Regions from separate parts of the Homo sapiens genome. Here region 2 is linked to region 1. Evidence: fine-mapped expression QTL. Tissue or cell type: whole blood. Region 1 holds a variant in brackets; the other region holds the start of a gene. All regions are shown on one strand. Distances are from middle to middle.

Region 1 (8,086 bases):
AATTTTATTTTTGGGTTTACATGTTGGTGATTTTGCTGTTTAAAATGGCCCAAGCTGGATCACCTGAGGTCAGGAGTTCGAGACCAGCCTGGGCAACATGGTGAAACCCTGTCTCTACTAAAAATACAAAAATTTAGTCGAGTGTGGTGGCAGGCACCTGTAATCCCAGCTACTCAGGAGGCTGAGGCAGAAGAATCGCTTGAACCCGGGAGGCAGACATTGCAGTGAGCCGAGATCGTGCCACTGCACTCCAGCCTGGGCGACAGAGAGACTCCATCTCAAAAACAAAACAAAACAAAACAAAACAAAACTATATATATAAAATAAAATGGCCGAAGCATAGGGCTGAAGTGCTGTCTAGTGTTCCTAACCACCACAAGGCTGGGATGTGCCTCATGGGTAAAAACATATGTGTTAGATAAGCATTTTTCAGGGATGAGCTCTAGTGCTGTTGCCCGTGAGTTCCTCTTAATGACTCAACAAGGTATGTTAAACAAGGTATCTCTAAACAGAAGCATACATGAAACAAGGTTGAATACTGGTGGGTTAATGAAAATATTGTGACCAGAGGTTCCCAGGAAACTTACCTTGTATTTCCCCTAGGAAAAACGGTTCACTATTCACTAATTCAGTGTTTATGGCTTCTTCACAGAACATAACTCCTGCAAATAATGAAAATCCCCTGTAACTTGACAAAGGTTACAGAGCTAATACTTAAACCCAGGCCTTTTTTCACTCCAGAGCCCATGCTTTTGACCTCTGCAACACTTCTCGGTTGTATAGTCCTGAGCAAATAATTTAACTTCTGGAAGCCCCAGTTTCCTCCTCTGTAATAGCATCTTCCTCCTTGGATTTAATGAGATTGAATGAGATGCTGCATGGAACCCTCACAGTTGGCACAGTACTTGCACATGCAAGAGCCCAGTCTGTAATCTGTTAGGGGTGAGACAATAACAGTGATGTCCTCCCACATCTCCACTGACAACACAGCGTATATGCAAGATGCTTTCTTTGAGGACTTCCCCCACCACCATTGCTGCAAATTTCCTTTAGTTTAATAGTGCTCCAGAAGCCTGCCATTTAAAAACCAAGTGCAGGCCAGGCACCGTGGTTCACGCGAGTAATCCCAGCACTTTGGGAGGCCGAGGTGGGAGGATCACTTGAGCCCAGGAGTTCAAGACCAGCCTGGGCAACATGGCAAAACCTTGTCTGTACAAAAATTCCAAAAATTAGTTGGACATGGTGGTGCACACCTCTAGTCCCAGCTACTCGGGAGGCTGAGGTGGGAGGATCGCTTAAACCTGGGAGGTCAAAACCGCAGTGAGCTGTGATTGCACCACTGCACTCCAGCCTGTCTCAAAAAGTAAAAAATAAAAACCGAGTAGAGTTGGGTAGTCCGGAATAAGAAAGAGCCTGAACAATGCCTTTTAGGCATGTATTTCAAAATCATTTTTGTTAGTGTAATAGGAAGCAATGTCTGGGGTAAATGTCTTTCCTTTTTATTACCATTCTGCTTTTATAATAGACAGATTACTAAATTAATGTGTTACCCACCATTCCCGACAATTAGCTTTAAAAACATCTCTTGGAGGCCAAGCTCTTGTATGCCAGGTTTCATGCTGAGAAGCTTTGCATAGCTGCAATATAAATAAATCTCCGTGAAAAGGTGCTTGCAGTAGAACTTCTAAAAGTATCGCCTGTAAGCATTGAGGTACTTCAAAAACACTGCTTCATCATCATTCCAACACTGCAGCCTGAAGGCAGGGTTATTTTAGGAGTGTTTGCAGGATAATATTTTATAGGTAGATGTGAGATGCCTTTCTTCTCACATCTGATCTTTGTCTTTCTACATTACACATTGATCTTTGTCTTTCTACAAAGCCTGGGTGAGGTTGCATAATATTCATTTGAGAGAGGGGACTTCAGTCCCTTTCAGGGTAATGACAGGGAGATTGAGGCCTGACAGAGGGCCATTACGGCTGGTTCAAGACTCTCTAGTTGAGTGGCAGCCAGATGAGGACTAGGATTGCTAGAGATCCCCAGGTGGCTGGCACTGCCATTTGTACAAGAAGAAATGGAGGAGGCGAGAAAGACAGAGTTGTGTGGATCCCCAGCTATGCTTCCCACAGAGAAGCCTGAGACCTTCCATCTTGTTTTTCCTACCTTCATCTCAGATGGTGCCCTGGGGTTCCTCTGAGGGTTCCTTCTGGTTCCTTCTTCCTTGGAGAGCTTTCTGGTTTCTTTCAGCTGCTGTGACTCACCTTGAAGGAAAAGTATGTGGGAAGTGAGGCTGCTTTCTTATAAACACTATTTGCCTTCTTGAGAATTTGTCCATACTGTGCACAGAGGGATGTCTTCCTACCAATACCTCCCGACCACACTGTGTGTTGCTCGGCAGGGACCCCACTCACTGGGTCATATGGTCATTTTATGTTTAACTTTTTAAGAAACTAACAAACTGCTCCAAGGGGTCTGCCCCATTTTACATTCCCATCAGCAATGTCTGAGGTTTCCCATTTCTGCTCATCCTCATAGACACTTGGAATTGTCTTTTATTAGAACCCATTCTAGTGGGCGTGAACTGATATCTCACTGTGGTTTTGATTTGCACTTGCCTGATGAATAATGATGTCCAGCATCTTTTCACATGCTTGTGGCCATTTACAAATTTTTTTGGTGAATTACCTATTCATATCTCTTGCCCACGTTTTTTTGTTTGTTTGTTTGTTTTTTCCTCCATGCCATGATTCTGTATCCTTTTTTAATTGGGCTGTTTGTCTTACTGAGTTGTAAAAGAGTGTTTTTTAATACAAATTCCAGAAACAAGTCCTTTATTACATACATTTTGGCAGATATTTTCTCCCAGTCTATTACTTGTCTTTCCACTTTCTTAATGGTGTCTTTTGAAGCACAAAAGTTTAGAACTTTGAGGTTAAGTTTGTGATTTTTCTTTTCTTTTGTGAACTATGCTATTGGTGTGATATTTAAGAAATCTTTGCCCAACCCAAGGCCTCAAAGATTCTGTCCCATGTTTTCTTCTAGCATGTGTATGGATTGCTCTTACCCTTAAGCCTATGTGGATAGGCTTATTGCACGTAGATACTCAAATGTTTCCACACTCTTTGCTGGGCGGAACCATGGGCCCCACTCTTGATTTCACTTCTTCTTCTCTCCACAGATCTGCAAAGCCCCTGAGCCCAAAACAGTCTCCTACTGCAGCCCGTCCGTGCCCGTGCACTTTAACATCCAGCAGGACTGCGGCCACTTCGTCGCCTCGGTGCCGTCCAGCATGCTCAGCTCCCCCGACGCGCCCAAGGACCCTGTGCCTGCCCTGCCCACACACCCCCCTGCCCAGGAGCAGGACTGCGTGGTGGTCATCACCCGAGAGGTGCCACATCAGACCGCCTCCGACTTCGTGCGGGACTCGGCGGCCAGCCACCAGGCGGAGCCCGAGGCGTACGAGCGGCGCGTGTGCTTCCTGCTTCTGCAACTCTGCAACGGGCTGGAGCACCTGAAGGAGCACGGGATCATCCACCGGGACCTGTGCCTGGAGAACCTGCTGCTGGTGCACTGCACCCTCCAGGCCGGCCCCGGGCCCGCCCCCGCCCCCGCCCCGGCTCCCGCCCCCGCCGCCGCCGCGCCTCCCTGCTCCTCTGCCGCCCCGCCTGCTGGTGGCACTCTCAGCCCCGCAGCCGGCCCCGCCTCCCCGGAAGGGCCCCGGGAGAAGCAGCTGCCCCGGCTCATCATCAGCAACTTTTTGAAGGCCAAGCAGAAGCCGGGCGGCACCCCAAACCTGCAGCAGAAGAAGAGCCAGGCCCGGCTGGCCCCCGAGATCGTGTCTGCTTCCCAGTACCGCAAGTTCGATGAGTTCCAGACAGGCATCCTCATCTACGAGCTGCTGCACCAACCCAACCCGTTCGAGGTGCGCGCCCAGCTGCGGGAGAGAGACTACCGGCAGGAGGACCTGCCGCCGCTGCCCGCGCTGTCCCTCTACTCACCCGGCCTGCAGCAGCTGGCACATCTGCTACTGGAGGCCGACCCCATCAAGCGTATCCGCATCGGCGAGGCCAAGCGCGTGCTGCAGTGCCTGCTGTGGGGGCCTCGGCGCGAGCTGGTGCAGCAGCCGGGCACCTCGGAGGAGGCGCTGTGCGGCACGCTGCACAACTGGATCGACATGAAGCGGGCCCTGATGATGATGAAGTTTGCGGAGAAGGCGGTGGATCGCAGGCGGGGCGTGGAGCTGGAGGACTGGCTTTGCTGCCAGTACCTGGCGTCTGCGGAGCCCGGGGCCCTCTTACAGTCGCTGAAGCTCCTGCAGCTTCTGTGAGCCAAGCCCCAGCCTGCACCGTCGCTGCCCCTTCCCTGCCTAACCCTTTCCTGTCTCGCCTTGGAAGCACCCATGTCTCCCTGGGAAATGGTACAGATGACTGGGATACCTGGATGTAAAATATATAAATATATATATAGAAAATACATATACCATATATAAATATGAAAGACTAAGGATGCTGTTGCCCGTCCACACTCGTCTCCTCTCTGCACTAAGTCCTCCCTGTTTTCTTCTGTAATTATACACATTTCCAGTTCCATGCAACGTCCTGAGGACAGTTCTGTGAACTGAATGCAGCCTGGACACTGGCCTCAATACCTTGTTTAGGATTTCTTCACCCTTTTGTCAAATTGTTATTTAAAGAAAAAAAAAAAAGAAGAAAATTCCATTAAAATTTTTTTTGGTTGAGTCATGAGCAAAGCTCTTTATCCTTAAGTGCCTGAGTGTATTAATATGTTTGGTGGGTAAAACGGAGCTGTCTTTGGTCTTAACGCTTTTCAGGAGATAGAGCAGCAGTCTGCAAAGGACCAGGCAAG[T/G]GGGTACCAATTCATCTTCCCTGTTTCTCTTCCCACCTGGCAGCCTTCTGGAAAGAATCCAGACACAGCCGCTGTGATCCCAGTGGTTTGGAATTCAAACCCATTTCCAGTTTGCTAAAGCTGGTTGCCATTTGTAAAATTCAGAGACGTGCCTGAAAACAGAGTCCACCCCAGATGGCTCAGATGAAAAGAACTTAAGGGGACCACTTAGCTAGGTGTGATCAGGGTTATGAGAACAAAGGGTGACAAGGCCAAAAGCAAGGGCCAGAACAGCAGGACAGGGGAACATACAGGAGGTATTCGCGCTGAGATCTCTACAGCCGGAGATGGGAGTCTCTGTTTCCCATCTGTCATCTCCAACCTAATAGGATGCCAGACAGCAAGGGACCTTGGGTGATGCAGTCTGGAGGATCAGCCTCCTGGGGCAGGGAGGAGGGAGAGAATGCATGGGACGCCAGGTGGCAAACGGCCCACTGTTCCTACCGTACTAGATACTGGCAGGGCAAGCATAGAATTCAGGTGTTTCAACTCCCAGGCCAGTACTCCCTCTGCTGTTCGGGCCTCCTTCAAGTCTCCTTTTCTAAAACCTCATTTAACGCACCCATTGGCACCTACAGCTTACTGGAGTCAATGTTTGTTACTATGCCTTTAAAAACACACAAGGAAAATTAGGAGGCATCAGATCTTTCCTCCTCAAAACTAGACACAGGCACGAAAGTCAAAAATTACCTATTTGAAGAGAAATAGCCCCAAGACTCTTGTATTTCTACCTAATGGGTAATCTTCCAACTACAGAACTAATTGATTTCTAAAACCTTGTGAATAACTCTGGACAAATTAAAACAAATACAAAGATCTGAATGGATGTTTTAGAAACCTGGGGATGCACTTAGCAGGAAGGATAGGGAACTCTCCCAGGTCCTCTTCTGCATATTAATTTCAATCCTTTTGTGAGTTCCACCTTCCAGCCCCTGACTACATGTAAACACATTCATCTTTCCATGCATCGTTGGTGAAGACAGCACCTGGGGCGCATTTGTAATTTCAATTGTTTCCTGAGCATTGAGGAAAGAACTGAACCAAAACCAGCTCCCAACCCGTTTGTACAAGAGAAGGAGTCTGCAAACGTGGAAATCATATTTCTCCCCAGGACCTATCTGTTTCGGGGGGGCATTATTTGCCAGTTCTTTCTTTGTCCCTCGGAATTTTCCAGGCAAACCTTCTGCCATCAATTTGCTGTCTTTTGCTTTTTTGTCCTTTTTCACTTCAAGTAAATAAACAATGGAGAGGGAGGAGCAAATATTCTGACAGGGGAATGCAGTGCCATTAGAAAATAAGGCCCAGCGTGGTGGCTCATGCCTGTAATCCCAGCAATTTGGGAGGCCAAGACATGTCAATCACCTAAGGTCAGGAGCTTGAGACCAGCCTGGCCAACATGGAGAAACCCTGTCTCTACTAAAAATACAAAAATTAGGTGGGTGTGCATGCCTGTAATCCCAGCTACTCAGGAGGCTGAAGCAGGAGAATCACTTGAACCCAGGAGGTGGAGGTTACGGTGAGCCAAGATCATACCACTGCATTCCAGCTTGGGTAACAAGAGTGAGACTCTATCAAAAAAAAGAAGAAAGAGAAGAAAAGAAAAGAAAGAAAAAGAAAGAAATAAAGGAAAAAAGAGAAAGAAAGAGAAAAAAAGAAAGGGAAAGAAAGAAAGAAGGAGAGAGAAAGAAAGAAAGAAAGAAATGTCTTAGGAGCCACATTTTTAATTCCTGAATTAATTGCAACTTTTTTATACCACCCACTTCAGAAAAAAAAAATGAGGTTGTAAAAACTGTTCTAAGAACCAACATGAACCAAAAAATAAAGGATAAAGAAGAAACAATAGCAATAAATTCTGAATGAGAGGAATAAGAGCAATTAAACATAAAACTTACTTCTGAGCTGTCCACCAACCTATAAAAAGAAAACTGGTTGCAGAATTCTTTTTTGTGTGCAATTTTAGGAAACAGTTCGTCAGAAGGAAGAAATTTTTGCCCAGTGCTTGGTTCTGAAGGAAATTTGTCAAGGATTCTTTGTTTGAAGACATTGAATAATGCCCCAATAGCAGTTTTAAAAAGAAAAAAAAAAAAAAAGAATTTTTTGAACATAGGTGTCATGAGCGATGCCAGGTTAAAAATAACCAGGTCCACACATGCTTGTGTCTTTCCAGAATGTCAGGCTTTTATTGATGCTAATTCAGTCACAAAAGCCAGAGGCTACATGGAGTTCCCAAGGAAGCAATTCTCTTTAGTACCTCCTGTTCTCTTGGTAGTCAGAGCCGCAGGCACACAGGCTTGAGCCACTCCACAAGTCAGTCAATATGGGAAACCATACATAATAGTATGCTTAATCAATATACATATATTACAGATTAAACATTCCACAATAAACAAAGTAGCATTGAACATGAAGAGGAGAAAGAGATAGGAGAAAGGTTAAGGAACCAGTCCAGTGGGAGCAGGTCAGTCTTGCAAGGAAAAGTGTTTGAGGTGGCAGAAGCAGATGCCAAGTTCTTATCATGAGTGACTGCAAGACAGTATCAGTTAAGACAGCCCCATTTCGAGCTGCTGAAGGCCTGACATTTTAAAGTCACAGAGGCCTCTGGTGAGAACTGATCTTGGACGAGTGTCCTTGTTTGTGTCTTTATCTGATTGGATGCAATCTTTATCTTTTTTATTTATTAAACAAAACATCTTATCCTTGTTGGCAAAGTGCCCTCTGAAACATAAAATGAAGTCTTATTCTAAGATGGAGTTTGTTATATCAAGGGTACTCTATACAATAGGGCATTTTTTTATCGCTACCATTGGTGAAGTTTAAATATGGAGTGTTAAAATCTAGTTTCCTCAAGTTCTCTGGAAATGCTTGCCTACTCACTCCTCTCCGTGGATTGGCCTTTTCCATAAATGATTAGTCATGTGGCTGTAAATATTAGGTTTAGCAAACAACTTCATTCGCACTAAATTCAGAGGTTCAATATAACTGGTTTTTTGTTACTTCAAAATACACCTAGGCTGCATGGCTTTGTCTCACAGAAGACTCTAGCATGATATCCATTATGCCCAGAAACGATAGTTTGTTCTGCAGGACTGAGGTTCAGAAATAATCAGGGACTTTTGTACGAGGACAGTTGCAGGATCTGGCAATTTAATACTCCTGTTATCAGTGAGTTCATCTCCCATTT
Region 2 (8,103 bases), 69 kb before region 1:
GGAAGGGGTCATGCTTCTTGTTTTTCTTATGGCCTCTTCTGTATTCCTGGGTCCCCCAATTCTTGGCCTCTTCCTATCACTTTTGCGCCTTCTTCACAATACTCCTGCAACCCCTTCATTTGTTCTGGGGGCTCCAAACACCACTTCTGGCAGGATGACTTCATTCACCAAACGGTGGCTACACACTTCCAACCCAACAGACCACAGACTGAATTCTGTGACTTTCCCGTTTGTAATAATGATACCATCATTCTACCGGTCTCTAGGGGCTAAAACTCTACTGGTCACCTTTGATTCCTTCCTCTCTGTCAGTAATAGCACCTACTCCTGTGTTTCTGCGAGGCTTACATGAGAAAAGCCAGGTACATCACTGATCACACAGGGCGTGATGCTGAGTAAGTGCTCCATAATGTAAGGCTTTATTCGTTAATAGATTATTGCTCACAGTGAATCCACGAAGTAACCAATCCCCATTTCTCCCTCTTCATGTCTCTCAAAACCACACACACCATCCATTCTTTCTGTTTCCCTTGCCATGTTCCTTATCAAAACACATCAACTGCCATCTGGACCAGGGATAGGAACGCTAAGCCAGACTCCTTGTCTCCAATCTCTTCTCCCACTTCCTAATCCATCTGGGATACAAGATCCAGAGAAAGCTAATGAAAAACCACCTTAGTGATGTCATTCTGCTGCTCGGAAATGTCAACACTTTCTTGATGGCTCACCTGGAAACGAAGTTCTTCTCTTCTAGTGCCACACTCCATTTCCAGGCCTGTCTCCAAAAACCATGATCCAGCCAGTCTAGAATGCAAAACCTCTGAAAAGTCTTCCGCCTCTCCCACGTCCATTCATTTGCAGATAACATTGTCTCAGTCTGGAAAGTCCCCATCCTCCACAGATTGAAATCGTTCTCATCTTCTAAAGCTCCCCTCCTCTATAGAGCCACTTTCTGTGTTTCTTCTGTCTGTTTCTCCCTTGAACCCCCACTGCCCCGACTTATCTTCCTCTCATAGAGCTTATTTTTTTTTTTTTTTGCTCTTACTCGTCTTTCTTTTCCCAGTAGGACCTCATGCAGTGCTTATAAGTAGAAGTCACTCAATACATATTCGTTGAGAAAACTGAATATCGTTCTCGCTTTTAGGTGAGATGCATGTCTCTATTATTTGAGATGTATGCTCTGGCTGAGGAGATAATATGTGTGGGATTTCTTTGGCTCAATCTTCATACTATCTGACCCCTCTCCAATACCCCAGCTTGTATTTTTGCAGTATAATTTAATGGCACATCCTTCCTAATCCTGCCATTTTGCCTAATTCCAAACTACCTTACTTTACTCACCCCGAAGCACTCCCAGCCTTGACCTCTTGTCCCAGTTTCCTAAAATATAACTGCTCTTGTACGGAATGGTGCCGCTGGACTAAAACTCTGACGAGGAATTGCTGTTCTTCAAGGTCTGGTCTGTATCAGGGAGCCCACGCCCTGCAGTTAAAAGTGTCATAAAAATGGACTGATAAGTAGCTAGAAGCAGAATGCTGTGTCTACACAAATTACACTGCATTGCAGGGTACAGTTTGGAAGTTCAAGCAAGAATTCTTTATGAAAATGAATGAGCTTACCGTAGCTTGACTGAGGATATCATATACTTAACAGTCACTGGTAGAGCACTGCCTAAGAGTGTGGGTATTTTATGTGCATCCCAGTGACTCCTTTGAAGTGTTTCTTGATTCTTTTCATTAGGCAAGATGAAGTCGTCTCTATGGCCATGTTGCTGGCTTTTAAAAAGATGCACATTATATGTCAGCAACTACAGTATAATGCATTTACTTTGTGTGAGCACAGCAAACCACTTAAGAACACACTTTATTTTGTAGACACACTGAATTTACCCTTCAAGTACTGCCCCATGCCACAGAACTACAAGTCTTGCCACATTATGGCTTTCTCTTATAATTATGCTCTTTAGCCTGTTCATGTATTAAGAATAAATTAGGGGCCGGGCGCGGTGGCTCACACCTGTAATCCTAGCACTTTGGGAGGCCGAGGCAGGCAGATAACTTGAGGTCAGGAGTTCAAGACCAGCCTGGCCCAACATGGTGAAATGCTGTCTCTACTAAAAATAGAAAAATTAGCAGGGCATGGTGGTGGCCGCCTGCAATCCCAGCTACTCAGGAGGCTGAGGCAGGAGAATGGCTTGAACCCGGGGAGTGGAGGCTGCAGTGAGACAAGATCTTGCCACTTCACTCCAGCCTGATTGAAAGATGAAACTCCATCCCAGGAAAAAAAAAAAAAAGAATAAGTTAGGTAAAGAGAAGAAAATAAAGTGCAAAAGTAAGTGCTTCTTTTATGTGTTCAGCACAGCCTTTATTCTGTGAGGTCAATGTCTCTCTTACAGAGGAAAGAAGTGAAACATTTAGCCTGAATCCTGAGAACCAGGAACTTCTCAAACATCTTAGTTTGCCCTCTCCCAGTGTAAATGAATTGCACACTTTCTGAAGTCACTTTTGTATTTCTCCATTGCAGACCACTTTGTACCTACCTGTTTAATCAACATCTTCCCCTCTTGAGTCTTGGTAGGGTCTGGATCTTTCAGCTCTGTTGGATGCTCATGAAGTGTAACCAAAGTTTCCCTTCCTTTTTTTTTTTTTTTTTTTTTTGAGACAGGGTCTTGCTCTGATACCCAAGCTGGAGTGTAGTGGTGCGATCTCAGCTCACTGCAACCTCCACCTCCCTGGCTCATGTGAGTCTCCTGCCTCAGCCTCCTGAGTAGCCGGGATTACAGGCGCCCACCACCACACTCGACTAATTTTTGTATTTTTAGTAGAGATGAGGTTATACCACATTGCCCAGGCTGTTCTTGAACTCCTGGCCTCAGGTGATCTGCCAGCCTCGGCCTCCCAAAATGCTGGGATTACAGGTGTGAGCCACCGCGCACGGCCAGTATTTGTTCAAATGATTTCTCTCCACTTAGGGGAGAGAGAAAAATAGGGCTGGACTACCTGCACTTGGCAAGGGCAGAGTGGCAGAGTAGACTTGCCTACCAGCGAAGCCAGACAGCCTTTGGTTCCAATCTTAGTACTACCACTTTTCAGCTGAGGAACCCCAGCAAATTGTGAGGCCCCCGAGCCTCAGTTTTCTTATCTGTAGAATGGGGATAATGATGCTCTCCTCATAGGATTGCTTAGCGCTGGGTAGGTCCTTAAGGAATGTCCATTGCACTCCCATCCCTCTACAGCTTCCCCCAGATTCTGTCCTCTTAGGAGGCATGGGTGTCACTGGAACATGAGGAAGAATTCCCTGGATCCTTTTTTCCCTTTCCTCACACAGAAGCCAAACCTCAAATACACATCTTCCCTCTCTGTCCACACCCACAGCAGCAAAGAGGAGAGCCAGGGATCTGGGGGTGGGGGTGGGGGCCCATCTTCCTCCTCTCAGTGGGTGGGGGCTCGCAGGCTGACTGGCAGAGGACCTTCACTGGAGTCAAAATAAACTGCCTTCCTGGGGAGGGGATAGAGGGCGAGAGAAGCCGCAGGTATTGTTTTGTGGGGGAGGGGGGTCCTCTTCCTATTCCATTTCACTGAATTCTTCCCACCCGGCATGGCCCTGGGAGGTGACCATAGCCCTGGCTCCCCGAGTAAACACCCAGGTCAAGCTACAGGACTGACTGGGTCTTAAGCTATTATACTCCCAGTGAAAAGATTTTTTTAGCCCGAGGACTATCTCGAACTCGTTCTATCTCAGTGAATGACTCACTGGAAACGGTGTAAACACAGGTGTATTACTGGCCTGCGGAAGACTTGGATGTCCCAGCATGGTAGAAGGCCAGGTCCCTGCAGTGCAACGCTTGCATTCTACATCCAGAAAACTAAAGTTCAAAGAGGTTAAGCAATTTGCCAGAATCCTGCAGTCCAGGGACTGAGCGGAACCTGGAATCCGCCACCGGGACTTCCAGCCCTGCTCCCTCCGGCGCCACCCTCTTCCCAGAGGTAGGGAGAGCTGAGGCTCGCTGTGCTCACGTGGCTTTCAGAGCCCGCCTCGGACCCTGACCTGTATTCCACTCCCGACCCCACACTTCCTCGTTTCCCCTTCCTTCTCCCTCTCTTCCCAGGGTCCCGCAGGGCCGGCTGGATGAAGTGATGCCGGGCACCTATACACGCATGATGGCAAAAGGAGGATTGCAACGCCAGAGCTCGCCCCTCCAGAGCTGTGCAGGGTCCCCACCGAGGAGGGGGTGCAAACGGGTGCTGGGCTCGGGGGTCAGCCCGCGCCAAGTCTGGGGCTGGGGGCGGAGCCTGCCGGTCCGGGGCGGGAGGGTGGGCAAGAGAGGGAGTCCCGGGGCCTGGAGACTTTGGAGGAGTCGGGGCCCTGGGGGTAGGAGACCGCCGGGTGGGAGCGGCAGGCGCAAGCCGGGCGGCGGGGCGCGCGGGCCAGGCGGGGCCGGGCGGCGGCAGGGACTGCGGAGGTGCGGCGTGAGCTGGGGCGGGCGGCGTCACCGGAGGCGGAGGGGGCGGAGCCGCGCTCACAGCTGCCACCCGGCCGCCGGGCCCAGGCAGAAGCCACCCGCCCGCGGCCGGGCACGCACCGCGCGCAGACCTTCTGCGAACAATGCTCCGGCCGGGCGGCTGGCGGCTCGGAGACCGACGGAGGGGCCGGGGGAGCGCAGCCCAGAGGTGAGCCCGCGACGCGCTCTCCAAATTCGGCCTCTTTTTGTCTGGCGAGCGTGGTCGCAGAGGGGAGCTTTGGAGGGGCGCTGCGATCGCCGAGCGGGCTACCCCCGGGGTGACAGGCGACCGCTCGGGAAGTGGGCAGTGCCGGGGCCGCGTGAGCCCCGGGTGGTGCCCGAGGTGCAGGGAGGCGCCCGGCCGGGAGGACCGAGGAGCTGGAGGGTGTTTTTGATTCATTCGAGAATCGCGCTCTTTAAAACGGGGAAACTTTCCTACGAGTTCCAGGAGGGAGGACCGACTGTTAGGATGGTTTCTCTGGTCTTGCTGCTCTGTCTGCGGCCGGAGGCTGAAGCGCTTTGAGGACTGCTTTCCACCGCTAGAGTATTGTCAAGGGGGAGAGACGGAAGGCCGCCTGGCTGCTGGGACCAGGACCCGGGGGGATGGTTTGGGGGTGCAGGGTATGCAGCAGCGGGGCTCCAGAGGCAACGAGATGATGCCCTTTTCCCCGAGCCCTGGCTGAGCCCTCTGAAACGCATGCTGTGAGCACGTTATTAACCTTTGCTGGTATCCGGGGACACACACACTTAGAACATAGAATCCTCTGCTGGGCATGGAGGCGGCCGGGCATTCGCAGCGGAGAGCGCCAGCTCACGGTGTGTGCGTTTCTCTCAGGTAAGCTCTCCCTGCACATGGTTTTGCAGAGCCGATAGCAAAGCCCAATGGTCTAGGGGCGAGGAGTTTTGGCGATGCATTCAGTGCGGAGTCAGGCTCAGAAGGCTTTCCTGATCACTGGCCTGAACTATTCTTAACAACTCCTCTCCCCTTCCCTTTCTGAGAAGAAAATTTGACAGAAAGCCCTAGGGAATTCCGCAGTTATTTTTCTCTCCTGAGGTCTGGTTGGTTTCGACTGTAGTGGGTGCAAAACCACATTCCTCCCTCTGAGATTTTCTTTCCTCCAGCACTGGAGGAAGAAAAAAGAAAAGGAAAAGTTGGGTGAATATCGTAATTTACCCTCTGCGTGAGTAGGGAGGCAGGGGGCTAGTGGGTGGTAAAGTTGTCACTTTCTCCTTTCTGCCTGGTCAGCCCTGGCCAGTGGAGTGTGCTGAAGTTCAGACACTTTCCACACATATTTCTTTCCTTTTACTGGCGTTGCATTAATTTAACTGTAACATACAGAAAAAAATTTTAGGTGAATGTTTTCTGCAATTCTGTCACTTCAGAATAAGGCATAAGCAACTTCTGATGTAAGTCTGAGGGGGTATTTTGGGCCAAAATATTTAATCTTAAAGATCTGGCCACCTTGATTCTTCAGATTCTTTTTTGAAATGGGGTGGGAGTGTATCTGACAGCTTCAGTCTTGCAAACTGTAGCCACAAATCTAGTGCAGAAGTTTGCAGAGGCAAAGACATTTTTTTCATGACTTGGATCAGAAAGAATGCTGAGCTCTTTTTTCTAATCTGACACTGCAGCCTCCTACTGAAATGGGGAGGATTTGCATAATTCTGGGGGCTGCCTCCCCTCAGAAGTAAGGAATGTGGGCTGCGAAGTGCCTTCCCCATGCTGTGGAGAGCTGGCACTGCTGCACCAGGCAAGGCGAGGCAAGGCTTTGTGGGTGCCACTTGTGTTTCTCACCATCTTTTACTTAAAACAAATAGGAGATAATTCCAGGCACAGAAGTGCAACGGGAAAAGAGGTTTTTTTTTTTTTTTTTTTTTTTTGGCTGCATGCGGTGGTAAATTCTGTTTGCTGCGACTGAGAAACCAGTTTTAACAGGATGCAGTGAGTCAATGACAGTGGGAAGCCCAGGGCTTCATTTGTTCTTTTCTTATTCAATGACTTCCCTTTAAAAATCTTTGCGTCCATCCGTCCCTGGCAGTCGTGTGATGAAAGTTGCCTCTCTAAACATCCAAGGATTTCTGAGCTGAGAATGGGAGCAAAGAGTGCTCGTAAACTGATGAGACATTCTCAAGGAAACTTCCCCCACGCTAGCAATCCAGATCCTTCCACACTCCCTTTGCACAGGGCTGTGCAAAGGTTGGGGAATCTTAGAAAGTAGGGCCTCTGATACCAATGTCACCCCTTCCGCAAAAACAAGTTTGTGTTCTTACTTGCCTGTTGAGGAGGCAATAAGTCGCCAAGCAGAACTGCTGCTTTGTGAATCTGTGATAGACCCTGAGGAAGTGGTTGGGCACCCACCTCCTCAGATAGCCCAGTGTCAGGAGGAGCTGTGGGAACTTGCAGAGCCCACACAGAGCTGGTTTCCAAACTGTCTTCCTCCATCCCGCGGAGCAGGCATGGGAGCATCTGCCTGCAGTGGAGGTGGGCTGGACAGTGTCCTTTCTGTGGCCTAGAAGGTGTAGACAGTCTTCACCCATCAGCGTCCCAGGAAGGGACCTACTGCCTATTCCTGAAGGCTGGAATACTTCCTCTGCTTTTTCCCCCTCCCAAAACTTAGCAGCAAGGCTACAGTTCTCTGTGGCCTGAGATTATAAGAGAAAGACAAAACCTGGCTATTTCCTCCGCTTGTTGAAGCCCAGTGACCTCTTCTGGAGAACTTGGCAAAGAAGGAACCTGCTACTTGGGTGTATTTGGAGGAGGAGAAGAACCTAGCTAACAGTCTTCTTAAAGAAAAGGACCTGTGAGACCCTAACAATAACTGCTAAAAGATACTTTTCTTTTATTTCAGAGGATTTATTTAGCTTAAAGATGCAGTGGGCTTTATTCTTAACTTTTTTTTTGTTTTTTTAGACAGGGTCTCACTCTAGTCACCCAGGCTGGAGTGCAGTGGTGTGATCATGGCTCACTGCAGCCTTGACCTCCTGGGCTCAGGCAGTCCTCCTACCTCAGCCTCCCAAGTAGCTGGGACCACAGGCATGCATGGCTACACCTGGATAGTTTTTTTAAATAATTATTATCTTTGTAAAGACAGAGTGTCTCTGTGTTACCCAGGCTGGTCTCAAACTCCTGGGCTCAAGCGATCGTCCTGCCTCGGCCTCCCAAAGTGCTGGGATTACAGGCGTGAGCCACCGCGCCTGGCCTCAACCCATTTTTCACTTTGGAGGGAAAAGAGGCACACGTAGCTTCAGCACTTGTTGAATGAACACCCCTGTCTATGAGTGTGGAGATAAAAGAGAGCACTTCCCACAAACACTCTGGAATGATTTTTGGGGTACCCGGCTCATTCCACCTGGTTAGTCCTGTTGACAGTTTAGAGATTATCAAACTTAAGGCAGATCCTTATGGGAGGAAAGTGGAGAGAAAACCCTAAGGCAAAATGGTCCCTATTTAATGAGAACCTATTCACCCTTATGTTCTTAAGGAAGATTTTGCTCTTGAACATTCTCCTTATGGGAAGTCAGTTTATTTTAAATAGGCTAAGAAGAGCCAGGAGCAATGCGCAAATCACCACTGCAGGGAGGAGCCGCCTGCAAAGTTGGCT

What was found. PIP is the estimated chance that this variant, and not a neighbour inherited with it, causes the effect.
Region 2: it holds the start of PRAG1, and the variant in region 1 is fine-mapped to the expression of PRAG1 in whole blood (INTERVAL, PIP 0.99).

The regions. Positions count from the first base shown.
Region 1 is chr8:8,314,395-8,322,480 of GRCh38, reverse strand. It overlaps PRAG1 (PEAK1 related, kinase-activating pseudokinase 1), which reads left to right. Exons shown (of 6, transcript NM_001080826.3): 6 at 3,179-4,745. The coding sequence ends at 4,327. LOC124901879 (a long non-coding RNA gene) reads right to left here and starts at 2,224. Exons shown (of 3, transcript XR_007060799.1): 1 at 2,164-2,224; 2 at 1,555-1,637; 3 at 588-662. The variant T/G (reference allele first, on the strand shown) is at 4,867.
Region 2 is chr8:8,382,888-8,390,990 of GRCh38, reverse strand. PRAG1 (PEAK1 related, kinase-activating pseudokinase 1) reads left to right here and starts at 4,552. Exons shown (of 6, transcript NM_001080826.3): 1 at 4,552-4,670. LOC105379222 (a long non-coding RNA gene) reads right to left here and starts at 1,427. Exons shown (of 3, transcript XR_002956679.2): 1 at 1,342-1,427; 2 at 729-804. RefSeq lists a silencer at 4,170-4,849.